Linked DNA regions of Homo sapiens. The protein of the gene in region 4 interacts with the protein of the main gene of each other region in a biochemical or structural test. Each region holds a gene or a part of one and is shown on either strand. Other genes may lie near its edges. The genes, in order: FOXL1, KLF8, NHLH1 and NFIB.

What was found.
Region 1: the proteins of NFIB (region 4) and FOXL1 form a complex in vitro, tested with the Homo sapiens proteins (one study listed by BioGRID).
Region 2: the proteins of NFIB (region 4) and KLF8 form a complex in vitro, tested with the Homo sapiens proteins (one study listed by BioGRID).
Region 3: the proteins of NFIB (region 4) and NHLH1 form a complex in vitro, tested with the Homo sapiens proteins (one study listed by BioGRID).

Annotation. Positions count from the first base shown.
Region 1 is NC_000016.10:86,574,428-86,581,548, reverse strand, and holds the start of FOXL1 (forkhead box protein L1), read right to left. Parts: upstream 3,001-7,121; 5' UTR 2,826-3,000; coding exon 1,788-2,825; 3' UTR 1-1,787. UniProt on the Homo sapiens protein: Transcription factor required for proper proliferation and differentiation in the gastrointestinal epithelium. Target gene of the hedgehog (Hh) signaling pathway via GLI2 and GLI3 transcription factors.
Region 2 is NC_000023.11:56,249,349-56,256,374, reverse strand, and holds part of KLF8 (Krueppel-like factor 8), read right to left. Parts: intron 6,145-7,026; coding exon 6,071-6,144; intron 1-6,070. UniProt on the Homo sapiens protein: Transcriptional repressor and activator. Binds to CACCC-boxes promoter elements. Also binds the GT-box of cyclin D1 promoter and mediates cell cycle progression at G(1) phase as a downstream target of focal adhesion kinase (FAK).
Region 3 is NC_000001.11:160,362,791-160,370,075, reverse strand, and holds the start of NHLH1 (helix-loop-helix protein 1), read right to left. Parts: upstream 3,006-7,285; 5' UTR 2,739-3,005; intron 1-2,738. UniProt on the Homo sapiens protein: May serve as DNA-binding protein and may be involved in the control of cell-type determination, possibly within the developing nervous system.
Region 4 is NC_000009.12:14,150,122-14,157,147, forward strand, and holds part of NFIB (nuclear factor 1 B-type), read right to left. Parts: intron 5,773-7,026; coding exon 5,704-5,772; intron 145-5,703; coding exon 24-144; intron 1-23.

The DNA.
Region 1 (7,121 bases), on a different chromosome or scaffold from region 4:
GGCTGGCCTGAAGTTTCCCAGAGTCTTCCCACTGGCCTGGGTAGAACCCAGTCGTGGAAGCCTGGTTCAGCATGGATAGGAGAATGAATTTTCCAAAAGTCACCTCTATGCCTGTGAATTATCCAATTACTCTGCCGGCCTGAAATGTCCTTTCCAACACATTGACCAACAGGCCCTCTGGATTCAAAGTTTGTCATCATTTTTAGACAAGTCCTGGAAACTATTTTAAAAGCGATCTTAAAGACCTCCCTCCCAACCTATTTCCAATAGTGCGTGACTACTTGTGTCTTTATCACATGACATAAAATAAAAGTGACTTAGAGGTTCAGAAAATTGCATTTCAGGGCCTCGAAGATTACCCAGCTAGAGATGGCATAGAGGTCGGTTGCATTTCCCCGGAAGCTGCAAGCTGAACTTGGTTGTGAACATCTCAATGTTCTTAATTAGATTTTCGTTGCAGACCTCTTCTCCCCTCCCCAGACTGCCAGTCACCTCTTTAAGGTTTTGATTTAGTATCAGCCTCCAGGCCTGCCTGGCAGGGCTGGGAGGGAAGAGCGGGCGGCTGCAGGGGGTGCGGGGGCCAGGAGTGTCTGGGAGATTCCTGCCATCAAACCTCAGGTCCTCTGGGGCCCAGAGAGGCCCCTTCCAGCGGACACCAGCACGTCCCCTTATTCTTCCCCCGCATTCATCCCTCTCTCTCTCTGCATCTGCTTTTGGTTGTTTCACCCAACTTTTTAAATTAAATGTAGTCTTTCATTATCTGTTTCTGAAAAATATAGCGACCACCAAGCCTGGATCTTGAAAAAACATGGAAATCAAAACTCTGACATTGTCCAAGGCATATCCCCTTCCCCTCACACCCTTCCTCATGGTATCCCTTGAAATATTTTGATCCCTTAAAAACAAAAGCAAAAGGATAGGACGTCTGCTGTTGTGGCTTACATAGCTGCATGTGTATTGGCTAATGAGCTATCGTAATGCAAGAAGATGTTATATAGAGTGCACTTTCTTAATAAAAATTGTTAATACAAGCGTTTTCAAAGGTCAATGCTTAGAGTCAAGTATTTATGCAAAGAATGAAACATGTTCTTTTTACTACCCAGAAAGAAATTAAGAGAAAAAGTCTCTGTTTAAAATAAAAGTGTTATTGCTCTGGGTGGTTATCAGCTTCTATAGCTGAACATTGGTCATAAATCCTCATCGGGCCCTACATCTCTCAGAAAACCTGAAAACCCGGGGTCACCCCCGGCACCTCCACAACTTCAAGTCAGGAACAAACCCAGCTGTGACCACCCACCACCCAGATGGGCTCAAAACCAAGGCCTGAGCCACACGGCAACAGCGAAGCAGGCGACGGTCATACGGGGGTCCCCGGTCGAAAGGACCTCAACTGCACCTGTAAGGCCTGCCTTGGGTGGTCTGCGGGCCCTTGCATGCCCGGGACTCGCAGGACCTGCGGTGGGCGGCTGAAGACCACACTCCATTAGACAGGTCAAACGTCAAGGAATCTCCCGCGGTGGAGGTCCCTGCAGGGCCCACGTGCGGTGCCCACGACCCCGCGGGGATCTTTTAAGTCTCCGTAGCTGCTCCCAGTTGCTGGGAAAAGTTTGCTTCGGAGAAGGCAGGCGAGCGCGCCCACCTGCGCGCAATGGTTGGTAACACTTCCCTGAACCCACAGGCCGACCCAGGCAAAGATCATTTTAAAATCCTCCGCCGGTGGGAGCTGTGGCCTTTCGCTCAGCGGAGGCTCAGGCTGGGCCGGGAGAAGAACCGTGCCATTGTTTGCTTTACTGGAAGTGGAGTACCGTGTCGGGAACCTGCAGGGGGAAATAAGAGAGGAAGGGGATCCCGAGCTGGTAAAAGCCGCCCTGGACATGCGGGTCGAGCATCAGGGAAGCGTTGAAAGGCGGACGGAGGCTGGAGGAGGCGGCCAGGAGCGAGGCACCCAGACGGCCGCCGGGCCCAGGCTTGGCACCCCCTAGGAGTTCGTCCCCTGAAGGCGGCTTCTGGCCCTGCTTTCCCGCCAGGATGCTGTCTATGCTGAAGCTCTTGGACTTGTCGGAGCTCTTCGGAGAGCTGCGGGAGGCGGGGCGCAGAGGGGACCCCGGGCCGTCCCCTGTGCGCGCTGCCTGGCCGACCGCCACGGCCGCTGCGCCCTGGGCAGCGTCACCAGCGTCCTCGTTCGGGGACGCGGTCCCCGGCCAGTGGAGGGGCGCCGGCGGAGAGGGGCCGTCCAGGAGGGGCGAGGGGCCCGCGGGCGCTGCCTGCAGGCGGGAGATTGCGGGGCCCGAGCCCCCTGCCCCGCTCCCCGCCTCCGGCTGCGCCTCCGCGCTGCGCTGGTGCGTCTCGGCGCGGGGCCTCTTGGCCTCCGGGGCCCCGGGGCCCGGCTTGGGCTTCCTCTTCCGGCGCCGGTAGTTGCCGTTCTCAAACATGTCCAGGCAGCGGGGGTCCAGCGTCCAGTAGCTGCCCTTGCCCGGCCGCCCTTTCTCGCGGGGCACCTTGACGAAGCAGTCGTTGAGCGAGAGGTTGTGGCGGATGCTGTTCTGCCAGCCCTGCCGGTTGTCGTGGTAGAAGGGGAAGCGGTCCATGATGAACTGGTAGATGCCGTTGAGCGTGACCCTCTGCTCGGGCGCGTCCTGGATCGCCATGGCGATGAGCGCGATGTAGCTGTAGGGAGGCTTCTGCGGGGTCTCGGCCCGGCCCGAGGCAGCTAGAGCAGCCGCGGGGGCGAAGGCCAGAGGGAGGCCGGGTCTCTCGGGACCGTACAGATACAGCATGGGCGAGGCGGCCAGGGCAGGCAGCCGGGGATCGAAGAGGTGACTCATGGCAAGCGAGAGCCTGCGCTGCGCTCCCCGCAACGCAGGAGACCCGGGCGGCCTAGGCACTGCGCCCCGCGCCGCAAGGGCCCTCCCGGGGAGCCAGCCGTGCCTCTGCCTCTGGCTCTGCCGCTCTCCCCGGCCGCTCCGTGCTCTGTCCCTTCTTCATGGCTTTAAAAATGTTAAATAATTGTTGTAAGTTTGCTGTTATATGTTGACTTAGCCCTGGAAAATAAATTGTCTATGATAAACAGTCCTTGTGTTCTCAGCCCACCCACATTAATTAAAATTTCATTGCTGAAAAACTCCAAGCTTTTCCCTCCACGTGTCTTTTTGATACCAGCCAATCGGTTTTGGGGCTATTCCTTCATTTGTTTATAGAATTAGTCTGTTGATAAGTCCGCCCACCCAAGTTGAATCAAGCTGTGTTTATTTGGAAAAATTTCCGGGCACCCAATATATAAACGCACTGATCTGATGTTTGAAATATCACGTCCACCCCTTGACGCTGTAAGCACACACAGTCAGTGAGGCAGGATGTAGACTGCGGTGGCTCAGAGCAGGGTCTGCTGAGCCAGGAAGGAGAGGTGGAGATGGGGGTGGGTGTGCAGGGATGAGTTTTACGCTGGCCTGGGGGAGCCCCATAACGCCAGGGCCTCCCACAAAAGGTCTTTTCTTCTCCCAGGCTTAACCGGAGATATCGAGATGCCACAGTCTAGTAAAACACTTTCTGAGGTCCTAGGAACCTTTTAGATTGGGGCAGGGAGAGTATCTAAGAAGCCTGAGTGTCTGCTGAGAAGGGGATGCGGCCCTCCCTGGAAAAACAGGTGGCAGACCCAGTAGGAGGTGGCACTCTCTAGGGACCTGCTCTCCCACACCCTCCCTTCCAGGGCTCTCCGGAAATCGGAGGGAAAGTGGACTCTGGGAGCCCAGTCTCTCTGGAAGGGAAGGCCTAAGGCACTGGGGGCCTGGGGAAGAGCTCATGGTCCACAGCTCCATTGAGGAAGGTTTCAAAATAAACCCATTTAGAGAACCGGGGGCAAAAGTAAGGTCCTCCTGATGGGGCCAAGGTTGCAAGAGAGGAACACCATAAAAGGAGGCCGTGGCAGCTGGCGCGGGAGGCCTGGTATTTGTGAATGTGGGTCTCCAGCTTTATATTCTGGGCTTTCCTGTTTATAACAAGGAGGGGGTTATAACAACTTTACAAGTGCATGCAGCTGGCCCGTGATTACATTAGGCATTTGGGAAGCCTGCTTGCTCTCCCTGTATCCACCCACCCTGGGGTGTACGCGGCCCTCCACCCCCATCTCATTTTACATTTTCCCACATCACTGTTTGAATAAAAAATCCTGAATCATGCTGATTTCGAAGGGGGCCTCTCCTCCCCACTCCACCGGTTAGGGTAAGGGTAGAGGCACCTAGTGTGACTACTTCCTGTTTATGACCACCCCCTGAATATTAAAACACACACACACTGTCACACACACACCCACACACACACACACACATTCGGATAACTGGCGTCTCATTGAGCAAATCGTGTGAGCATGTCAAAGAGATGAGGGAAGGGGGAGGATGGCAGGTGGGTGTAGAAATGGCCCACTGCCAGTGGGCCAGGAAGGAGGGAGAGGCACCGAGGGCACTTACAGGGGTAGGGGGAGTGTCTGCCGCTGCCACACCCGGCTGAGGATGTGAGTGCCCAGGTAGCCTCTGAACACGGAAACGTGGCGGGCATCCTTTTTCAAAATGAGAAAATCAGAAATAACCCGTGTGTTTGGGGTTCCTGGGTATCCAGCCCATGGAATAAGTAGACCGCAGGGGAGCGGGTAAATTTAAAATACCAAAAAGGAAGTCGCAGGAAGGGTGGAAAAACCGGCCTGGGTACCGGCACTGCCTGCGGGAGCGACAGGCCAGTCCCTGGGACACCTCGGGCCTCCCTCCGCGGCCCTGCTCCTCTAACGTGGGTCCAGCGAGCAGCCCGGCCGCGCCCGCCTAGGTCCTGGGGGTGAACCTCTGGCCAGGAGGGGCGAGGCTTTGTCTTTTCGTTACCACTCGCTCTCACCCGCGTACCCCTTTCAAACTTGGGGTGAAGAAACCTCAATGCCAGCGCCTTTGCAACCCGCAGGCCCCACAGTCTCTGGGGTCACCCAACCTCTCCGGGGCCGCGCGCCCCCAGCAAGCTCAAGTTTGGATCCAGTTCCTTCTCCAGCCTCGGCGCTCGCTCCAACACACCCAGACCGAGAGATAAACCGGTGTCACTATGCAACCCTTTCCCCACCTTCCTATCCCACAGCCCCTCCTGGAGCTCCCCACGCGGCACCCGAAGTCCAGCACGCACATCCCTGCCTCTACCGAAACTCCCGCCGTCCCGGCGCGTCTTCTAAACTCTAAGGCAAATCCGAGCTTGAATTTGTACGGTGATAAATACTGCCCGATTTGGTAATGGGCGGGACGTGGGCGGAGACACGGGAGGCTGGTGGGCGGGGCACCGATAGTAAAGCAAAAAAAAAAAAAAAAAAAAGAGAGCGAGAAAGAGACAGAGAGAGATTAGGAGAGAGAGAGAAAAACCAAAAAACAAAAAACAAATGCCCACGCTCTAGTCGCGGTTTGGAGACGCACACCCAGCCCCGCGCGTTTGCAGAAGTGTGCAAAGTCTCCGGGAGGTTTCAGCTGTAGAACTCCGGCTTTGCGCCCCAGCCCCGCTCCAGAGCGGGTTTGAATCCCGGGCTCCCGGGTGATTGATGAGTTTGTAACCTGAGCCTAGGAGGGGCCTCTGTTAGAAGGAACCCCGCGCTGGGGCAATTTCCATATTTCCGGGGAGTGCAGGCTCAAGCCCTAGGAGTCCGAGAGCGGATGCGCCCTCGTGCGGAGGCTCTGTTGGCTGAGGCCAGAGCGAAGGGCCTGCGGGGGGCAGCCGAGCTGGGAGACGGCCGGGCGGGCCTCTAGAACGAGTGTCCTAGAGAGCCAGATGGGGACACTGAATGTTCCCTGTAGATTCATAAGCCTCGGATCCCAGAAAAGCGCGTCATCTGAGAAGTCACTTGGTGAGGGCTCACCTCCCAGCCTGCAAGAAAAGCCTGAGATCTCTGGCCTGCCCGGATGCTCCAGAAGGACTGGAGTTTCCAACTCTGAGGCTTGAGCAGAAACGGGGTTCAGCGTGGGATGAGGGTAGTCAGCCTCCTTCCCAGTCCTGGGACAAAGCGCATGTGCGTTCCTCAGGGAGGCAGATCAGAGACCAGGCATTGGTGATGAAAACGGCCTCAGATAAAAAGGCTGACGGGTGAGAGACAAGAGCTCCTCCCACTGCGCCCCAAGCCATCCACTCAACCTTCCTCACTGGAAAGCAAAAAGCAGAAACCTGAGTTAACAGTAATCTGTGTCGCTTTCCAAACATCTGCATCACTTTTCCAAACGTAAAGACAGTTACCGCATGTACGACTTGTGTGTGTGTTACATACGTATGCATGATTCAACCGCGTGTAGCATGTTTGAGAAGAGCTGCGGTGGAAAGATGAAGGGTTTAGCCCCTCACCTTACTGACAACCTAAAAACATTGGAGACAGATGATAATAATATGAATAACTAGAATGTACTGAGCCATTTCATCCTCACAGCAGCCCTAATAGAAACCTTTGTCGCTCCCATTTTGCAAACCAGGAAACTGAACAACGCCCTGTAAGTTAACCTGCCTCAGGTGTCCCATGAGGAAGTGCTCCAAAGACAGAAAATAATCTTACAATAGCACCAGGTGTGGACACTCAGGGCTCCATGGAAGTTCTCTTGCCAACTCTTACTAAATCTGTGAAAGGCAGGCGTGGCAGATTCACCCATTTGACAGATGATGAAACTGAGGCTCGGCACATAACACCCCAAGACCCTGAAAGTAGGAAATGGCCGCACAGGGACCACAGCCCACGTGAGTGTCCTCCAAAAGTGGGTGCTCTGGGGTCTGACATGCTCAGGTATCTGGAAGGACTCAGAGGCAGAGATTGTCTGGAGTAGACAGTGGGAGAGGGGCCCTCCAGAGAGGAGAGGGTGTGCAGCACCCCTGGAGCTGGGAGATTCAGGACATTATAAGAAAATCCCAGAGTCCTTGCTTATGTTCCACCAAAACCCAGAAGACCTCTTCCTCCTTCCCTCCCCGCCCACTTTGAAAAGAGTGGAAGATTTCCAGAGCTGGAGTAGCAGGGCCCAGGGCCTCCCTTCTCTTGGGAGGCAGTGAGCAGGACATGAAGGTAATGGTGGTCCCACTGAATCAGCAAATGCAGAAGGAGACCCAAAAGCTGGGCGGGACTTCCCAAATGA
Region 2 (7,026 bases), on a different chromosome or scaffold from region 4:
AAAAGAATTTGAAATAAAATACAAAAGATCAGTGAAACAAAAAGTTGTTTTTTGAAAAGTTAAACAAAATTGACATACCTTTAGCCAGGCTAATGAGAAAAAAAGAGAGAAGATCCAAATAAATAATATCAGAAATGAAAAAGGAGACATTACAACTGATATTGCAGAAATTCAAAGGATCATTAGTAGCCACTATGAGCAATTACATGTCAATGAATTGAAAAATCTAGAAAAAAATGGACAAATTCCTAGACACATATAACCTACCAAGATTGAACCATGAAATCCAAAACATGAACAGACCAATAACAAGTAATGAGATTGAAGCCATAATAAAAAGTCTCCTAGTAAAGAAAAGCCCAGGACCTGATGGCTTCACAGCTGAATTCTACCAAACATTTAAAGAAGAGCTCATACCAATTCTACTGAAACTATTCTGAAAAATAGAGGAGGAACTATTTCCAAACTCATTCTACAAGGCCAGTATTACCCTGATACCAAAACCAGACAAAGACACTTCAAAAAAAGAAAATTACAGGCCAATATCTCTGATGAATACTGATGCAAAAATCCTCAACAAGCTACTGGCAAACCAAATTCAACAATATATTAGAAAGATCCTTCATCCTGACCAAGTGGGATCCCTGGGTGCAAAGACAGTTCAACACACAAATCAATCAATGTGATACATAATATCAACAGAATGAAGGATTAAAGACCATGATTATTTCAATTGATGCTGAAAAAGCATTTGATAAAATTCAACATCCCTTCAAAAAACTGGGGATACAAGTAACACCTCAGCATAATAAAAGCCATATAAAACAGACCCACAGCTAGTATCATATCGAATGGGGAAAAACTGAAAGCCTTTCCTCTAAGACCTGGCACATGTCAAGGATGCCCATTGTCAACACTGTTATTCCACATAGTATTGGAAGTCCTGGCTAGAGCCATCAGAAAAGAGAAAGATATAAAGGGCATTCAAATTGGAAAAAAAGAAGTCAAATTATTTTTGTTTGCAGATGATATGATCCTATATTTGGAAAAACCTAAAAACTCCACAAAAAACTATTAGAACCCATAAACAAATTCAGTAAAGCTGCAGTATAGAAAATCAAACTAATCAAATCAGTAGCATCTTTATGTCAACAGTGAACAATCTGAAAAAGAAATAAAAAAGTAAACCTGTTTACAATAGCCACACATAAAATTAAATACCTACAAATTAACCAAAGAAGTGGGAGATGTCTACAATGAAAACTATAAAACACTGAAGAAAGAAATTGAAGAGGACATCAAAAAATGGAAAAATATTCTATGTTCATGGATTGGAAGAATCAATATTGTTGAAATGTCCATACTGACAGGGACAGGAGGCAGGGAAATTCTAGGCAGAAGTGGGCAGGTCCCTGGTGAGGGCCCCACCCTGAAGCCTGGAACCACAGTCCAAAGTGAGAACTTATATTTCCGTTTTCCTGCTTGAATGTTGCCTTTTCCAAAACCACCCATGGTTGACCCTGCCCCCTATCCTGTGCCCATAAAAACCCAGGCTCAGCTGGCAGAAAGAGGAGAAGCAGCTAAACGTTGGAGATTATAGTTGGATGTTGGAGAGAAGTGGCTTGACTTCAGAGGGACAGCTTGATGGCATAGCTTTGGAGAGGAGTCCAGATGGGGACAGCTGGAATCCAGGGGAAGATTACCTTCCCACTCCATCCCCTTTTCAGCTCCCCCTCCCACTGATAGCCACTTTGATCAGCAATAAAATCTCCCACATTAACCACCTTTGATTCATTGTGTAACCTCATTCCTCCTGGATGCCAGACAAGAACTTCAGTGTGGGTGCAGAAGGCTGTCACACTGACCCTCTGGTGAGCTGTTAATGCTTAAGCCATCTGCAAACAGCAAAGCTAAAAGGGTACTGTAACACTCCTTCTGGGGCTTCAAGGGTCGCAGGCACCCCGCCCCCCGGACTCTGCTGTGGGGTGCGCATAGAGTTTTGCTCCTGCCGGTGCCCAAAGGCACTCACCCCAGCTCCTGCACCCACTGACCTGTGATTCCCCTCCCACAAGGGGTAGAACACAGCAGGTTTAAGTGAGTGGAATTCGCCCCTGCTAGTGCCAAAGCGCCAGCTAGGTCCAGCACCAGTGCACTCCAGTTCCCACCCACGAAGGGGTCAAGGAAATATCCTGCTTCAATGCTACCTAAAACACAATACAGATTCAATAAAATCCCTATCAAAATACCAATGACATTCTTGTCTGGGCGCAGTGGCTCATGTCTGTAATCTCAACACTTTGGGAAGCAAAGTGTTGCTTTGTCAGATTGTTCACTGTTGACACACTTTGGGAACACAAAGAGGTGGGTGGATCACTTCAGGTTAGGAGTTCAGGACCAGTCTGGTTAACATGGTGAAACCCCGTCTCTGCCAAAAAAAAAAAAAAAAATTAGCTGGGCATGGTGGCACATGCCCATAGTCCCTGCTACTTGGGAGGCTGAGGCACAAGAATTGCTGGAAGCCAGGAGGTGAAGGTTGCAATGAGCCAAGATTGTGCCACTGCACTCCGGCCTGGGCAACAGAGTGAGACAACATCTCAAAAAAAAAAAAAAGAAAAAGAAAAAAAGACATTATGTACAAAAATAGAAAAACGAAATCCGAAAATTTATATCAAACCACAAATACCGAGAATAGCCTGTTATCCTAAGCAAAAAGAACAAAACTGAAGGAATCACATTACCTGACTTCAAGTTATACTATAGAGCTATAGTAACCAAAATGGCATTGTATTGGCATGAAAACAAACATACAGTGCAATGGAACAAAATAGAGAACCCAGAAATAAAGCCATACATCTACAAAGAATTCATTTTTTACAAAGGTGCCAGGAACATACATTGGGGAATGCGTGGTCTCTTCAATAAATGGTGCTGGGAAACCTGGATATCCATATGCAGAAAAATGAAACCAGAACCCTATCTCTAACCATATACAAAAATTAAATTAAAATGGATTAAAGAGTTAAATCTAAGACCTCAAACTATGAAACTGCTGCAGAAAATATTTGGGAAAATCTCCAGGACATTGGTCTGGGCAAAAATTTCTTGAGCAATACCCCACAAACACAGGCAACCAAAGCAAACAGGAACAAATGGGATCACATCAATTAAAAAGCTTCTGCAAAGCAAAGGATTCAATCAACAAAGTGAAGAGACAACCCATAGATTGGGAGAAAATATTTGTAAACTACCCATCTGACAACAGATTAATCACCAGAATATATAATGAGCTCAAACAACTCAATAGAAAAAAGTCTAATAATTCAATTTAAAAATGGGTAAAACATTTGAATAGACATTTCTCAGAAGAAGACATACAAATGGCAAACAGGTATATGAAAAGGTGCTCAACATCAGTGATCATCAGAGAAATGTAAATCAAAACTACAATGAGATATTTAAAATGGCTTTTATCCAAGAGTTAGGCAATAATAAATGCTGGTGAGGATGTGGAGAAAAGAAAACACTTGTGCACTGTTGGTGGGAATGTAAATTAGTACAGCCACTATGGAGAACAATTTGGAGGTTCCTCAAAAAAATTGAAAATTGAGCTACTATATGATCCAGCAATCCCACTGCTGGGTATATACCAAAAAGAAAGGAAATCAGTATATCAAAGAGATATCTGCACTTCCATGTTTGTTGCAGCACTATTCACAATAGCTAAGATTTGGAAGCAACCTAAGTATTCATCAACAGATGAATGGATAAAGAAAATGTGTTACAGATACACAATGGAGTACTATTCAGCCATAAAAAGAATGAGATCCTGTCATTTGCAATAACATGGGTGGAACTGGAGATTATTATGTTCAGTGAAATAAGTCAGGTATAGAAAGACAAATATCACATGTTCTTATTTATTTGTGGGATCTAAAAATCGAAACCATTGAACTCATGGACATAGAGAGTAGAAGGATGGTTACCAGAGGCTGGGAAGGGCAGTGGGGTGTTGAGGAGGAGGTGGTCATGGTGAATGTGTACGAAAAAATAGTTAGAAATTGTCTGGGTGCAGTGGCTCTCTCCTGTAATCCCCAGCACTTTGGGAGGCCGACATGGGCAGATCACCTGAGGTCAGGATTTTGAGACCAGCCTGGCCAACATGGTGAAACCCTGTCTCTACTAAAAATACAAACAATTAGCTGGGCGTGGTGGCATGTGCCTGTAGTCCTAGCTACTCAGGAGGCTGAGGCAAGATAATTGCTTGAATCTGGGAGGCGGAGGTTGCAGTGAGCTGAGAAGCCACCACTGTACTCCAGCCTGGGCAACAGAGAGAGACTCCATCTCAAAAACAAAAAAAAGTTGGAAATAACAAATAAGACCTACTATTTGATAGCATGATAGGGTGACTAGAGTCAATAATAACTTAATTGTACACTTAAAAAATATCTAAAAGAGTGTAATTGCATTGTTTGTAACACAAAGGATAAATGCTGCAGGGATGGATACCCCATTCTCCATAATGTGATTATTTCACATTGCATGCCTGTATGAAAACATCTCAATGTATCCCATAAATATATACGCCTACTATGTACCTACAAAAATTAAAAATAAGGCCAGGTACGGTGGCTCACACCTATAAACCCAGCACTTTGGGAGGCCGAGGTGGGCGGATCATGAGGTCAGGAGTTCGAGACCAGCCTAGCCAATATGGTGAAACCCTGTCCCTACTAAAAATACAAAAATTAGCCGGGCATGGTGGTGCGTGCCTGTAGTCCCAGCTACTCAGGAGGCTGAGGCAGAAGAATAGCTTGAACCTGGAAGGCAGAGGATGCAGTGAGCCAAGATTGTGCCACTGCACTCCATCCTGGGTGACAAAGCGAGACTCCGTCTCAAATAAATAAATAAATAAATAAATAAATATATAAAAATTCAAAAAATAAAATAAAAGTTGAAATTATAACAAAAAGATTCCTAAATGTAACCAACTTTATCTGATGAATTAAATAAAGAAACAGACAAGTATTGTATATACAACACTGTATACTCAAGTCTATAGGTGATTTAAGGATTTTCAAGGTTAATTTTGACTGTATTTGAGTTTCACTCATGCAGTGAATTTGCAACCCCAAGAAAGACGGGACTTCAACATCTAGCACAGAGCCCTGGGACATAAAATCCAGATAACCTGTTTCGAATCCTAATTCTTGGAGTGTTCAAGGCCAGTTTTATTTTCCATCAAATGGGGAAACTAAGAATAATGATGGTTAATTTTATGTGACAACTTGGCTGGGCTACAGTGCCCAGATATTTGGTCAAACATTATTCTAGATGTTTCTGTGAAGGTATTTTTTTGGATGAGACCAACATTTAAAACATTGTACTTTAAATAGGGCACATTACTCTCTATAATGTGAGTGGTCCTCAACCAATCAGTTGAAGACCTTAGTTTTTAAAACAAAGACTGTCCTCCATAGAGCAAGAAAGAATTCTTCTCACAATCTGCTTTTGGACTCAAACTGTAACTCCTTCTGAATCTCCAGCCTGCCGGCCTACCCCTGATGGGGTTTTGGACTTGCCATGCCTCCACAATCTAATGAGCCAATTTCTTGAAATCTCTCTCTCTCTCTCTCTCCATGTACATATATGCATACACACACACATACACCATACACACATATCCTGTTGGTTCTGTTTCTCTGGAGAATACTAATTAATACACTGTTCAACAGGATTATGGTGAAGATTAAATAAGACAATGCATTTAATCTTCATCCTATCTGAAATATGAAATAGTGCTATATAAATAGTTGCTATTGTCTACTAAAGGTCTACTCTTGTCTTTATAGCCTTGATTCCAGAGGCTATGTTTCTTTTAGGCCAGATCTACTCCCCAGCTGACTATGAAACCAAGGCATTCATATACTTTCTAGAAATATGTCTTCCTTCACCTCTTCTCAATCCCCAAACATGTTATAGAAAGAAAAATGAGTTTAAATTCTGTAATCACTACCAGGTATTCAATACTATTATGGCCCAATATTAGCACCCTATTTTCCTGATAACTGACCTGCTTGAATACCTGCATTGAGCCACCTTCTGAATTAAGTTGGACCTCCAAGTTGTTTATGAGTTTATCCATATCTGGAAAAGAGAAAAGGAAAAGACAACTTTCAGAATAAAATCTAACCCACTATATGCATAAATATGCCATTAATGTTATGTGTGTTCTATGACCTTTATCTTTCAGTGCTTACCAGATACTGATAAGTCATTGAAACCTTCTGATTTATTTTACTCATCAAGATGGACCTAACTTTTCCCCAATAATATTAGCTGCTCCCCTCCACCAAACTGCATGCAGGTAATCTGTTTCTTCCTATTTCTCCAACATGCTCTGCCTTCAGAGGAACATCAGTATAGCTACAGTTTTCAGTATTCTACCTTCCTGGTCTAGTTCTTGCTTGAAGGAGTTCCAAGCTCCTATATATATATTTACCCGAGTGAACTTATTTACACATCAAGGCCAAATCTCTCTAGAGACGTATTTTATCTGTCTACGTCTCTTAAATCTGCAAGCCAGGTGGGGTAATAAAAACAGTTTTCTCTTTCTTCTTTAGTTTTTCCTCTTAAAAAAAGGAATTAGTGTCTTAATTCAGCTGCCTTAAACCATCAGTCATTCATACTAGAAGCACCTACTAGCTTTCTTCCTCAACCAGATTTTCTGGGAGTTAGATGTGCAGCACTCACATCCCATAATCTTTGGCAAGGCCTTTTTTTTCCTAAGCCACAACTTGTCCATCTATGATTAAAAGATTTCAGACTATCCTCTGCAGAACCCTAAGGCTTCCATGGAACTTGGGGGTGGGGTTTGTTAAATTAAGGTTAGCTTAAAGCTTCCTCCTTACATATTTCAAGTTCAGCCTAAAGGTTTCCCCATCCATAATGAACCATAACCTAACTGGATGTGTAGACAGTGTAATCTACTGTTGCGCCAATCACAGAGTTTCAGCCAATTACAGGCAG
Region 3 (7,285 bases), on a different chromosome or scaffold from region 4:
AGGCAATCTATGGAATGGGAGAAAATATTTGCAAATTATATATCTGATAAGGGGTTAATATCCAGAACATATAAATAAATCCTACAACTCAACAACAGCAAAAAATCAAATAACCCAATTTAAAAATGGGCAAAGGAGGGATTGGGAGGGGCGTGAAATGAGAAATTACAGAATGGGTACCGTGTATGTTATTCAGGTGATGGACATCCTAAGAGCCCTGACTTGACCATTATGCAATCTATGCATGTAACAAAATTGCACTTGTACCCCATAAATTTATATAAATAAACATTTTTTAAGAAAAAAATGGGTAAAGGACTAGAATACACATTTCTCCAAAGATTTTATACAAATGGCCAACAAGCATATGAAAAAATGTTCAACATCACTAATCATTAAAATGCAAATCAAACCCACTATGAAATATCACTTCATACCCATTAGGATGGCTACTATAAAAACAAAAACCAAACAAACAAAAAATAAGTCTTGGCAAGGATGTGGAGAAATTGGAACCCTTATGCCTTGTTGGGATTGCAAAATGATGCAACCACTATGGAAAACAGTATAAATGTTCCTCAAAAAATAAAAAATAGAACTACCATATGCTCCAGGAATCCTACCTCTGGGTATATATACAAATAAAGTAGGGTGTCAAAGAGATATTTGCACACTCATGTTCATAGCAGCACTATTCACAATAGCCAAGAGGTAGAAGCAACCCAAATGTCCATCAATAGACAACAGATAAACAAAATGTATTATATACATACAGTGGAATATTATTCAGCCCTAAAAAGGAAGTTCTGTCACATGCTACAGCATGAATGAACCTTGAGGATATGATGATAAGTGAAATAAACCAGTAACAACACAAATACTGTATAGCTCCACTTATATGAGGTATTTAAAGTAGTCTAATTCATAGAAACAGAAAGTAGAATGGCCGTTGCCAGGGGCTGGAGGGAGGGGGTAAAGGGGAGTTGTTGTTTAGTGGGTATAGAATTATACATTTGCAGGATGAAAAATTGCTAGAGATCTGTTTCACAACAATGTGAATATACTGAACACTACTGAATTGTACACTTAAAAATGGTTAAGATTATAAATTGTATGCTGTTTTTTATCTAAATGAATAAATAAAAGGAGGAAAAAATCTGAGCAAGACTGCAGCCACAGCCCCAAGAGAAGTTAGCTATGACTCTAGATGCTTCCCAGTTGTGAGGGGAGAATACAAGCCTTGGCCCTGTGGTCCCCTCCCTCTCAGGGCCCCTCTCCACCCTTGCTGCCTGAGGTGGAGGAGCGGATAAACACACAGATTGCCCATTGTAGAATAGACTAGGACATATGGAGCTCTGCGCAGCTGCCCCAGCTCTGCACAGCTCCCCTCCCAGTTCCCCAAACCTTCCCAGCAGAACCATTGTAGATATGAGATCCTGTCCACTAAAACCAGGGGAAGATATCTCTTCTCACCACCACCCCACTGTGCACAACCAGCCTCTTCCTCCACCTCTGTCTTCGAAATTTTCAGCCCTTGCCATTCCCTGGCCCTTTTGGAGGCTGGGCAAGGAAGATTGGGGAAAGGGAACATAATCAACCTTCTACCCCCATACTCTCCCATAGCCCAAGGAAGGTTCAGACACGGCCTGCAGAGGACACAGACAGATTTTTGGAGCTACCCTTATGGGACTCAGCTAAGGTTTGCTTGTCCTAGGACCAGAGGAGATCAGGGCAAGGCAGCACAAACATGGCCTGGGAAAAGCTGGGGAAAGGGCTTTGCTTGTGTGCAGTGTTAAAGGGGAACAGTGGGCCACTCACCATCAGCTCAACTAAGAATGATTAGAAACAGAAGCACCAAGGTGCCTGCACCATCACTATCTCCCCTTCCTCCCCAGCCCTGGCTTTCCTGTCTGATAGATACTCTCAAAGGGGTTAGGATCCTCCCAAGCCTTGCCCCACCCCACCACACAGAAGATAGGTTCAAGTCAAGCCAACAAACAGCTATGAAGCTCTGGAGGGATGCAAAGTCATCCACATCTGATGACAAGTACACACACAATCTTAACAGGAAACAGAAGGTGGTTAGTGCTGAAATTGAGAACACATTCCATATTCTGGGGTTCAAATGAACTATGGGGGGATGGCAATAGTGTGGGAGGCCCCAAAGTCAGCACCTCCCAGTACATGTTTAGTGCCCCCAACTCCCCACCCCCCATGCTGGGGCTGGGAGCAGGAGTTCAGCTGCGGAGTTCCCAACACATTTATCACATCTATCACAGGCTAATTCTCTCTGCCCGGTCCCTATGTTCCTTCATCCCTCATCACTTTGCCATGCCCTTCCTTCCCCTCTCCGTGCTCCCCATCTGGCCCCAGTCTCATCTCCACCTGGCCCCATTGTCCTCCCCAGTTCCAGTCCCGGCAGCAGCTTCTATTTACCCATCAAGTCCTCACCCCCAAATCCACTTCTGGTCTCAAAGTTCCAGGGTCCAAGGATCAGGGGAGCAGCAATTCCAAGCCTGCAGGACAGGACTTCCCACCCCACTTCTGCCAGCCCTAACCCAACTGAGGATAGATAGGCACAAAGAGTCGAAGGGGAGGAGTGGAGAAGAGGGACACGCGGAGACAGGGAGAGACACAGCGCACAAGGGAGAGAACTAGAGGGAGGCTCTAGGAAGGGGCTTGAGCCAGAGAATGGGAGGGACACGCCCATCCCTCCCCGCCCATGGTTTCCCCTTTACCTAGAAGGACCCTGTCAGGGGATCCAAGCCGGCAGGACAAGGGGCAGCGTTGACAGCCCCAGTCTCCTCTGGGTGCTCAAGGCTCATCCGTCTGCAAAGTTAGTGACCAGCTTTCTAGACTCTCAGGGGTAGCGTGGCATGGCTGTACAGGCTCCAGGGCAGATAAGAGGGGTACACATTGTGGGGGTGTAGGGCCCAGGTGGAAGTGGTGGGCTTGGCCAGGTACTGGGGCCAGCCACACTCACACACACACCCTCAGACACACACACCTGAGCTGGCCCAGCCCTATGTATATATATGGAGATACACACACACACCCCCAGCTCTCCATTGGCTGGCCCAGGCCCACCCCCCCCTCATCAATATTAAACAGCCAGGCCAGGCAGCCATTGGCAGAGGGATCTGGGAACCCCTCGGGAGCTGGGGGCGGGGGCTGGCCCTGGGTGGGGGCGGGGAGCGGGGGAGCAGGGACATCTGTTCTCCATGCATATTTCATAAGCAAGAAATGGAGAGCTGGGGAAGGGGTGGGGCTGGGGCGAGAGCCAGGGCAGGACCACAGATGAACCCCCTCAGTCTCCCACACCAGAGGCAGCAGGGCAGAGGCTCCCAGCAAGCTATGGTTAAGTGCCATGGCCCCATTCGGAGTCCCAGCGTGACTTGGACAGCCCCTTCCTGGTGTCTCTTTTTTCCTGAGAGGGAGACTCTTCAAGGTACTAACAGGGAAACCGAGAAAAGAGCAAGTGGGTAGCACTAAAATGCAGAAGAGGACCCTAGGGTCCTGGCCCTCAAGCTCTTATCCTTCATAAAGCTGGTACCCACTGCTTGCCAGCCTGCCTGTAGCAACTGTTCAGGCCCCTACCCTCATCACCCTGGGACTCAATCACCCCCATACCCTCTTACCCCACCCGCTATCTTCCTACCTAACCCATCACCAAGGGGAGGAGCAGGATCAAATTTGGGACACAGACCCCACAAGGAGTTTTTCTAGGCTGGCCAGCCCAACCTGACCCACTGGGAATTAGAGGGCTCTTAGGAAGAAAGAGGTAAGGGCTAAAAGGAGAGGAGTGGAGGAGTGCCAAGACAGGAAGAACCAGGATTGGAAGGACACTGGGAGAGGAGGGCAGGGCAGCCTAGGCAGGCTCTGAGTGTGTTTTGAGGGCATCAAATCAGCAATAAGAAAACCAGACACAAAATTATATGCAAATGGGCACTGATTAAGCTCCCATCAATAGCTCAGCAGCCTCCAGCATGTATATGCAAGTGTGTGTGAATGTGAATGTAAGTGTGAGTGTGTGTGTGTATGTGTGTGTTGCCGAGTGGCAGGATTGAGGAGGGGCAGCACAGGGACCAGAGTGCATAGAGAGACAGTGCATAGAGGGTTTCAGTGTCTGAAGTTCTCTCCCCACTCAGCTGTTGGATGTCTTCTCTGAACCTTTGAGAGTATTCAAAAGAACCATGACTGGAGAGGACTCCAGAGGTAGTGTGGTACAGTGAAAAAGGCTCTGTCAGCTGTGTGACCTTGGACAAATAACAACCTTTTGAGCCTGGACCTCTTTTCCTGTAAAATGGGGTTGATTATAGCTGCTTCTTAGGTTGCCATGGAAATTAAGGGAGATAATATGTGTAGTGGGCCTAGAGCTTAGTAGGAGCACATCCCACCTTCAGGCTGGAGGGACTTGCCATTTCCCTGTTGCTGGTCAACCTTTTCTGGGCTTTCTCCAGGGTGAAGCATTCCCTAAGGGGGTCCCATAATTCCTCCCCAAGCTCCCCCACCTGCCCCCATCCCTGAGTCTGGGAGGTGCCAACTCCCACCTGGGCAGGCCCAGACAGGTGCCCAGGCGCCAGCAGATGGGCTGAGCTGGAGGGGAAAGGAGGCTTGAGGAGGGGGGCTGGGGGGCAGGGGATCAGGTGGCATCTCAGTTCTTGCATCATCATTGCCATGGTGCTGATTAAAAACCAATCTCCACCTAATGAGCCCCCAGCAACAACAATTCTACCTCCTCCACTCTCCTGCCCTCCACCCCATCCAAGAAATTGGGAGACCAAGAGACTCAGGAGAGAGTGCCATGGGGGAGATGAGAGATACAGAAAGAAGGGGAGATGAACAGAGACAGGGGAAGCGGAGGGAAACGACGAGAAAGACACGGGAAGATACCGAGACTCAGGGAGAGAAAAAAATGAGAAACCAGAGTCATTGGGTAACAGACATGGGAAAGACATAGGGAAATGGGAAGACACAGTCTCATGGGGAGATTGAGACACAAAGGAGGTAAAAAGATTTAAAAAAAAAAAAAAAAAAAAGAATGGAAACAGAATTGCCAGGTTGCCAAGGCTTTGTGGAAGACTTGGAGACCCAAGCTATGGGAGAGATAGAGACTTGGGGAGAGGCTTTAAAAGAGGATGCTGTGGCCGGGCACGGTGGCTCACGCCTGTAATCTCAGCACTTTGGGAGGCCGAGGCGGGTGGATCACCTAAGGTCAGGAGTTTGAGACCAGCCTGACCAACATGGTGAAACCCTGTCTCTACTAAAAATACAAAAATTAGTTGGGCGTGGTGGTGGGCGCCTGTAATCCCAGCTACTCGAGAGGCTGAGACAGGAGAATCGCTTGAACCCGGGAGGCAGAGGTTGCAGTGAGCCAAAATTGTGCCATTGCACTCCAGCCTGGGTGACAAGAGCAAGACTCCGTCAAAAAAAAAAAAAAGGAGGCTGCTAGGGAGACACAGACTTGGATGAATACATATGTGGAGGAAACAGCTATTCAGCGGCAGGGAAATACTGACACCATGAGACAGAGTCCTGAGGGAGGCCCCAAGGCAAGGTGGGGCCACATAGGCACGGGGTAAGCAGAGAGCAGACAGTTGGGAGGAAACAAAAAATACCAGAGACAAAGAGAACAAGGTGGGGAAAGGTGATAAACTGAACGATGGAGATGAGGAACTATTACTGAAACAGGGAGGCCAGATCCCAAAAAGTAAGACATTGAGGAAAAAAGAAGCAGAATCTAGAGAGACCCCCGAAGCAGAAAGGAACCTTGAGGATGGCATAGAGCATGCAGGAAGAAGCCAAACCCCTTGCAGGGCTCCCTCCTTTCAGGCCATTTTGCTCAGATACTTAAGCTCTGCAACCTCCATCCCTGAAGCACACCGCCTGAACCCGTCGCAGTTCAAGCTAAGGTTCCACGGGAGAGGAGGGTGAAAGAGTGCTCTGGGGGCTGCTCCTCCTCCTCTGCATCTGGCATCCCAGGATCCTGGACTCTGGGGCCTCCTGCCCCAGTTTTCACTTAGGATTTCAGCTTTTGCTCCTTAGGGGAGTAGCTAAAAAAGAACATAGTTGTGACAAAGAGGACATAAACGCATGAAATGGTGGGAAGAACTACATCTACTAAATTTGGGGGCAGCTACACATGGGTCTAAGTCCTGGTGACCTTGGATAAGTCACTTAACCTTGGCTGAGTTTTATTTTGTTATAGTAGTGACACCCAGGTGAAATAATGCATGGGAAAGTGCTAGGTGAACTGTATAAAGTGCTCATCCCAACCTCCTATGGTGATTTAAAAGTGGCAAGAAGTTTCATACACACATATATCTGAAGCATTATGATTGTGGAGGCAGGGGAGAGCTCTGAGGCCAACCCAGGTTGTCTGGCCTCTGGCCCCAGTGAAAGGGAGAACCCTTGGAGTTGTGTGTGGGTCTTTGCTGCAAGGAGGACAGGAAGACCAGGGCCTGGGGATAAGGAGGATGATTATGGCTTTATAGTTTGTTGTTATTTTACTTTCTTTTTGTTGTTTAAAAATCTCCACTGGCTTTTATTTGCTATAATCCGATAATCAAGCAAAACCTGATACAATAGAATGAGTGTTCCTGCTATTTTACATTTTATAGGCATTCACTTTTTCAGATCATGATTCACAAATCTTTCCCCATAGCCTGAGAGGTAGATCGTTGAGGGAGGGGAGGGAGGTTGGTGTGTAGGGAAGACACAGGGGCCTGGGCCTTGTCCTTGAGGGTGGGGGGAGGGCCTGGAGGAGCTGGGAAGCAGTGGGTTTGGCAGGAGAGGGGGTGACATATGTGGGGAGCCCTGGGGACCCAACCAGGCAAGCGGCTGGCAGGGACAGCAGACGACATTAACCCTCGCTGTGCCACACCGCCTGACCCTTCCCAGGAGTGGCCTATGGCTAGGGTGTTATTTTGTAACAGTGGCAGTGTTTTGGGTCACAGGAGCAAGACAGGCAGAGCTTGCTCCTCCTGGGCAGGAGCTGTTGTTTCTGGGAAGGGACAGCCTGTCTTGGATGTCTTCTGTCTTAGCTTCTTTCCTTGTTTTTCCACATGGTCTCTGTCAGTCTGTCTTTCTCTGTCTCCACCTCTCTGTGCCTCTGGAAGGTGACAGCGGGTCTCCACTCTGGCTCACTACACAATCTGTCACTCTCTCTGCTGCCAGCCCGGCTGGAAGCCCCCCTTCTCAGCACCCAACTGAGCCCTCTCCTCCCGGCCCTCTAGGCTGTATTGCCTTTGTCTCCTAAGGCGGCCTCCCCTTTCTTCTCTCCTCT
Region 4 (7,026 bases):
ATGAGCAGCCCTTCTTTCAGTACCTGCTTGGTGGAGAAGACAGAGACCTCTGAAGATTGACCCCCGAGTTCATGTCATGATAGTATGGTTGGCTTGGGATTTCTCCAATTGGGAAGTTGACTCCAGTTCCCTGGGTTATGGGCGCTGAGGAATAAGACAAAGAAGCACTGGGAATGACATTCGTATTTCTGACCTCTATTCAAATGTAATAATCGAGAATCTTTCATGCCTCTGGTCAAAGATAGAGAGAACTTTCTTCACCTTAAGCCTCTAATACCCACCATACAACCTGGGTAGGACCTGAAAACTTGCTCACCTTAGCAACGTTCAAGCTTGGAAATTTGAGGCAATCAGATTATAATCACTGGTTACCAATTTCCCGAATCCTATTCCTCAACCTTCTTTACTCACTCCTTTATATTAGTTGACATTACATCTGTCACTCTGCTAGTTAAAAATGCCTTGGAGGAAACAGAATATACGAGTCCTATCACTCAGCAACACCAAACAAGCTGCTTTGCACTACCTAGGCTCTCGAAAACCAAATCATTGTTAAATAAATAAACAGAGAACCGTTTCACAAAAAAAAGCAAAAATCATTATTCACAGCCTCCCAGTTAGGATATGATAATAATTATTAATATCATGACTTCTAATCCACTCAAATATTAATGTTGATATTAATGTTGATAATATAGAATAATAATTTTTGGTTTGTAACACAAAGGATAAATGCTTCAGGTGATGGATACCCCATTTACCCTGATGTGATTATTATGCATTGTATGTCTTTATCAAAATATCTCATGATATTTTGTATAATTACATCTGTTCACATTTTTTAAATTTAATTTTAGATATCATGAACAAAGCTGTGAGGCAGCATATTGTGTTAGAATCAGCAGAGTCTTGAGAGATAAATAGCCTTTTAGTTTAAACTCCCTCTGTATTATAAGTTATGTGCCCTAGTTTCCTAACTGTAAAATGGGAGTAATAATAACCGGACACATAGGATTATTTTGAGGATGAAATGAAATAGGTAGTGATAAGAGCCTAGAATCATGCCTAGTGTATAACACGTGCTCAACCATTGTGAGTTCCCTTCCTTCTTTGCTTTCTCCTCCAAACTTCTTCCCTGGTAGACTGGAATGGTTAGCAAAGATGAACAGTTCAAAAACGTGTTAAAAGCAGAGGAAGAGGTATAAATGAACCTGTTCGCTGAAAATTTGTTCATTCAACAAATTACTGACTGTGTCCACTGCTGGCAGGTGTTGGCTGCAATGTGTACAAAATAGTCTCATATATTGCCCTTAATAAAAATATTGGGCAACAAGCTGGGTAAGTAAAACATTCATGCGAAACACATAAATACCAAAATAGATGAAAATGAAACTGTCCAAATTAATGACATGATCCAAAACTGCTGTAGAATTTCAAGGGAAAAAGAATCCAATACCAGCTTGAATTGTCCAAGAAGTCTGCGAAAAGCCATAGCTGGCACTGGACTCTGGAGAATGAGTAAGAGATTAGAGGGAGGTCATTCTAAACAGGGACTGCTGCAGAAGCAAAATCATAGGTAGAGATAATGTGCAAAGTGGAGACCAGGCAGGTTGGTGTCAAAGAACTCCTTAAGAATAGTTTCCATTTCTTTACCTGTCTTAATCAGCCCTTCAAAAGCTCACACGAAATTGTACTCTGGGGCTTTGCAACAAAATTCTAGAGCCCCTGAGATGCACTCTAAGCATACGTGGTCTACTTAAACTCCTCCTCTCTCCCATCTGCCTCAAGTTGAGTATAAAATTCCAAAGGGATTGCAGATTTTTATGGAAGTTTTCTTACCCCTCATTTTTAATGAATATTCTAAATGTGTTCACTACCCTTTGAATTGTATTTTAATATTAGGCAGGCTAAGATTAACTTAAAATATTTTTAAGAAAGTATGATTAGGAGGTACAAGCTTTATCACAGAGAAGTAACCACGGAATACACAATGAACATCTCCCTTTCTGGACTAAAAATTAAATACATCAGTATATACATGACTAGTAACAGCTCCAAACTTCTGGATTATCTATCAGCCTTCTGATAGATTGTTCATGTTATATAATACACTGTAACATCCTTTACACAGAAAATACTTGTATCCAATGAGTAACTAAGTGCCTGATGGCTTGAATTATTTGGACAGCTAAAATGTAGCTATGTCTGTTGTGGCTTGAGGCACACCAAAGGTTAAAAAAATGTGAGGTAAGAAATCCCACAGTAACCGCATGTTTTATAATTTATTATTAGAACCATGTTCTATATGACACTGGAAGTGGGGTACATGCTAGAAGGAGTATTTCAGGGGCTCAAGTGAAGTAAACAATCTGTCTGGCTTCCTATCACAGTAATGGATACAATTCATAGACCTGAGTTATTAACAGGAAACTTAGAGGTTCCACCTTACATAAACTATTTTCAATTTATTAAGCTCATGCAATATTTAGGCAAAGATTTATAGTTTCTATTGAATACATATGGCTCCATAGTTAACATAATTTGCTTACCCATAAATAAACTAGATGTAATTTGTAGTAAATGATAATTTTAAAATCTTCAGAAATTGTTTTTTTCTAAATTTTGTTCCAGAAAGATTATTCCGCAGTGTCAAGACAGCAATAAAAACGACAAATATAGCATGTTCTCACTCATACATGGGAGCTTAAAAAGTTGATCTCATCGAAGGGGTTGTCAGAGGTGGGGGAGGGTGGGGAGGTGAGGAGATGAAGAGAGATTGGTTAATGGGTAAAAACATACAGTTATAATAGACAGAAAGAATAATTTCCAGTATTTGATAGCACAGCAGGGTGGCTACAGTTAACAACAATATATTACATATTTTAAAATAGCAAAAAAAGAAGATTTGAAACATTCCCAACATGAAGAAATGATAAATGTTTGAGATGACAGATATCCTAAATAGCCTGATTTAATCATTATACACTGTATGCATGGATCCAGAGATCACATGGATTCCATAAATATGTACACATATTATGTTTTAATTTTGTAAAGATAGCAATAAAATAATTTGTCTACGGATTTATGCATGAGCACTGTAAAAATTTAGTATGCATTCTGACACTAAATGGGAGATACAGAAAGGAAAGTAGATTAACAAACACGGCCAAAGTACTAAAACAACACACATGGAAATTATTTAATGACAGAGTGTGTGGGAACAGCAAGTCTCAGTCAGATATTCCTGCTTAAGAGCCTCTGGAAGAACTTACATCAGACGCAAAGATCAGTGTTAGCGCCTCTCCCAGGGAGCTACAAGAAGGCTGAAAGCTGCAAATCATGTTTAAGAGGATGCCGATATCCTCTTAGAAATGAAGCACCAAAGAACCTCAGATTCTAAGGGTTAGAGGCCAACCTTTAATCTCCCTTATTGTTCTCCTCACTCCAAAAGCTGATCCTAAATCAACTTTTAAGATGGAGATAATATCATTCAAAAGAGAGATCACTATCCTAATGCTGAATGGCTTCATTAGCTAAAGTCAACATACACATCAGTGGGTCTTATGATTGTAAAACCCTAGAGGACTGAAAGCACTAGCATACTGTAAACCCTCAAGAAGTCAGAATTTGTGATACACACATAGTGTTGTGCTGAAGTTTATGTTTACTTAGCAAACCCCTATTTCATAAATAATGAAGTTTAATTGTGTAAACAAAGATTATGATGCGGATATATTAAAACACTTAGGAGGAGAACTTATCAGGCCTTTCAGAGACACCTATTTACATATGGAGGAGAAAATAAATGTTTGCTGAATAAATTACGTAATGAATATAGATAATTAATGTGCTAATTACAAATCAGTAATGTTTGTTATAACAAATAACCTAAAAGTTTCTAGGATATGACATTATAAGTTAAGAATGAATGAATGAAGTATATTAAATTTACCTTGGTTTTGAACTGTTCTAGAAAGATAATTTTCATCTTTGTTTTAATGTTTGAAATTCAGATTTTTCAAAATATCTATCTGGGCTTTTGAAGGTTCTAATGTGGTTCTCCTTTGACAGCCCTTAGCATAATATTACCTATCATGAGGTACTAAATAAATATTTTCTGACAGCTGACTCTACTGCCCTACTCCTAAGAAGGATGAAAATATACCATTGAACTTGAACTCAGAGAAGTACAAATTTAAGCAAATAATTTAATAAGCCTCCTAACTGGAGCACCATAAGCCTTTCCGCTAAAGAAGAGTATGGGGAAGACACACACACCCCTTCAGATAACCCCTGTCTTACCTGATGCTACAAAGTGCTACTGGTAAGTCAGGCATATTTCTTCCCAAATTAAAAGTGAAAACTTTCAAATGTTGGATACCTTTGGATATCACATATTGATCTGGAAAAACACATTAAGGTACACTGCCTTGGACAATCTCCTTGCCCATCGAATACACACCCTGGGGCTACCAGAATACAGGATATTTGTGTTTCTTCTCCTACACTGCCACCATGTAAAAAGACCCATGAGAGAAGTCTTTTGGGCATACATTTATCCACTCTAGAATTATACCAGAAAGGATAAACTACTTAAGATCTTAAACGTTCATATGTATCACTCCCTGCTATACATGCTATTTGCACTGTTCACTTTAGAAATGTGAGCTATTTGAGGAACTACGGTTCAAAAGACAGTCAGTGATAGCGTGAAGATTCCTTTACTGAACAACAAGACTCTAAAACACTGCTTATTCTTATCCTCAGTAACTCGATTACTCTTTGTTCTTTCTGGATCATCATAATTCTTATTCATGACCTCTAAATATGACCCAAATGAGAAACACAACTTAGGCAGGTATCAGAGTGTGACTACATCATCTGAATAACATCACTCCGAAGTGTGATGCATTCTATCAAAATGTCAGGTGAAAATATACCCTTCAAAGTTACATAAATAAGCTAAATCAGTGAAGGGAGTATGAAGAAAGGAGTCACCTTCTTTAACATAATTAGTACATATAGATCTGCATCTTGGATATGTTTGTACATGCTAGTAATAAGTAAAAGAGTTAATCAAGGTAACGTCCCCTTTGCTTAGGTAGCCTGCCAGGTGAGCTTAGCCTAGAAAAATCTGATCCAGCCTGCTAAGAATGGTGTCTCAGGTGAAGTGGCCAGTTAAAACAATTGGACATTGTTTTGGATAACAATGCTTTCTATCTATATCCAACTACAATCTGCAAAGTTAATTTCTGCATCCCTCTACACTCTGCACGTTAGTGTGTATATCCTGTGCATCTCCAACCCCCACCAAAATGTTAGTAAAATGAAAAAGCACTTATCTACAGGAAACTTATGTGGGTTATCATAACAACATAGAGTACATTTAATTAATCACACTTCCTTTGATATAAATGGCCATCTATGGTCATGCAGAGAACAGTGAATTAAATGAATACCAATAACATGGCAATCAGAAAAACCCCAAAATTATTTTTGTACAACAAAAAGTTTTGATGATTTGAATGCAAACATTTTAGAAAATCAAGCAAAATATATTGTTATTTCATCAAAGGTTTTAAGATTTTAATTCAAATTTTCCTAATATGTGGTCACTCTTTATACTACATTTAAGGTTCAAAATATAAAGTATTTTAAATCATACTGCATGCTTAAGTAGTAACAAAACAATTTACTTACTTCTGGATACTCTTACAAGTTCTGATACATTGAAGACTCCAGATTTTACAAAACTATCCTCAAGGTAACCTGAAAATAAATATTAAAGGAAAAATGATCAATATAAGCAGAAAGTAAAATAAATGATTATACACTAGAATTTAAGTGTTTTAAAGCCAATGGTTTGAACAAAAACCAAATATGCTTACAATAAGGACTTTAAAAAATGACTCTTAGGAATGCAAATTAGGTTTGTTTAAACAAAAATAAAAAGTTTAGATACCAAATAATCTCTTAGGAAAATTTTTTCTTCCCTTTCTAAAAGTACAGGTTTATTGATGCGGTTTGATTTGCCATGGCCCATGCATACAGAATGGTCTGTGGGCTCTCAGTGAATGCTTTTGACTCGGTAGCACCTGGTAGACTAAAGCGAAAAATGAAAGAAAGAAAAAGGAAACCACAACCACAATTAGCACCTTGCTGGAATAATGTCAAAGATCTCTTAAAGCCACCGTTCTTTTGTAAACCCTTCTCTGATGAAAGAAAAGTGAACTGCTGTTACCAGCACCCCGACCCTTGTTCCAGGGTCACTAATAACATAAAAAGCAGAACTTGTATATACAGCAAATACAGAACTTTGCGTTGACCTATTTCTGGGCATCTTTAATATACGTTGCACGATTTCACTGCTTTCCTCACCCTTGCTACTATTCCACTGGACTCCTTTTATTTCAAGAATTAGACAACTTTTCTGGCAAATGGTGGTGAATCCAGGCCTCTGGGAATGCCACATGACCCTTAAGTCACACCGGGGCAGGGTCCACAGTGGCCATGGAGCCTGCTTGCTAGCTGGTCTATGTCCAAAACTAGAGATGAGAACTCCCACAAACAACAGTAACCCTGCACCCAGCCCACCCCATTCTCATCTATGTTAAGGGGGTGTAATGAGTGTGAGGAATACCTTAGCAGGGGAGGTTATGGCCTACTTGCTTCTGTCCTAGGGTGAGAATAAGTTTGAAAATCCTCAGAATTGAAATACATCTGAGAAACAAACAAACAAAACTAGATTCTAAGAACTGGCAATTTGACTGGATTTTACATAAAGCTTCAGGGCTGACCAAGGAATTAGATGCAGTTCAGAGATGTGAAGCATGGGTAGTGCAGCAACATGGAGCACTGAAATCAAAGAGCTGGGATTTGAATCCTAGCCACAGATGACCAGTTATGAAATCTTGGCTAGGTTATTAGTCCTCTTTTTGCCTCAGATTCCTCACTTAACAAATTGGAGACAATAAAAATCACCTATCTTATAGAGTTGTTACTACTGGAGATAAAAATATAAAC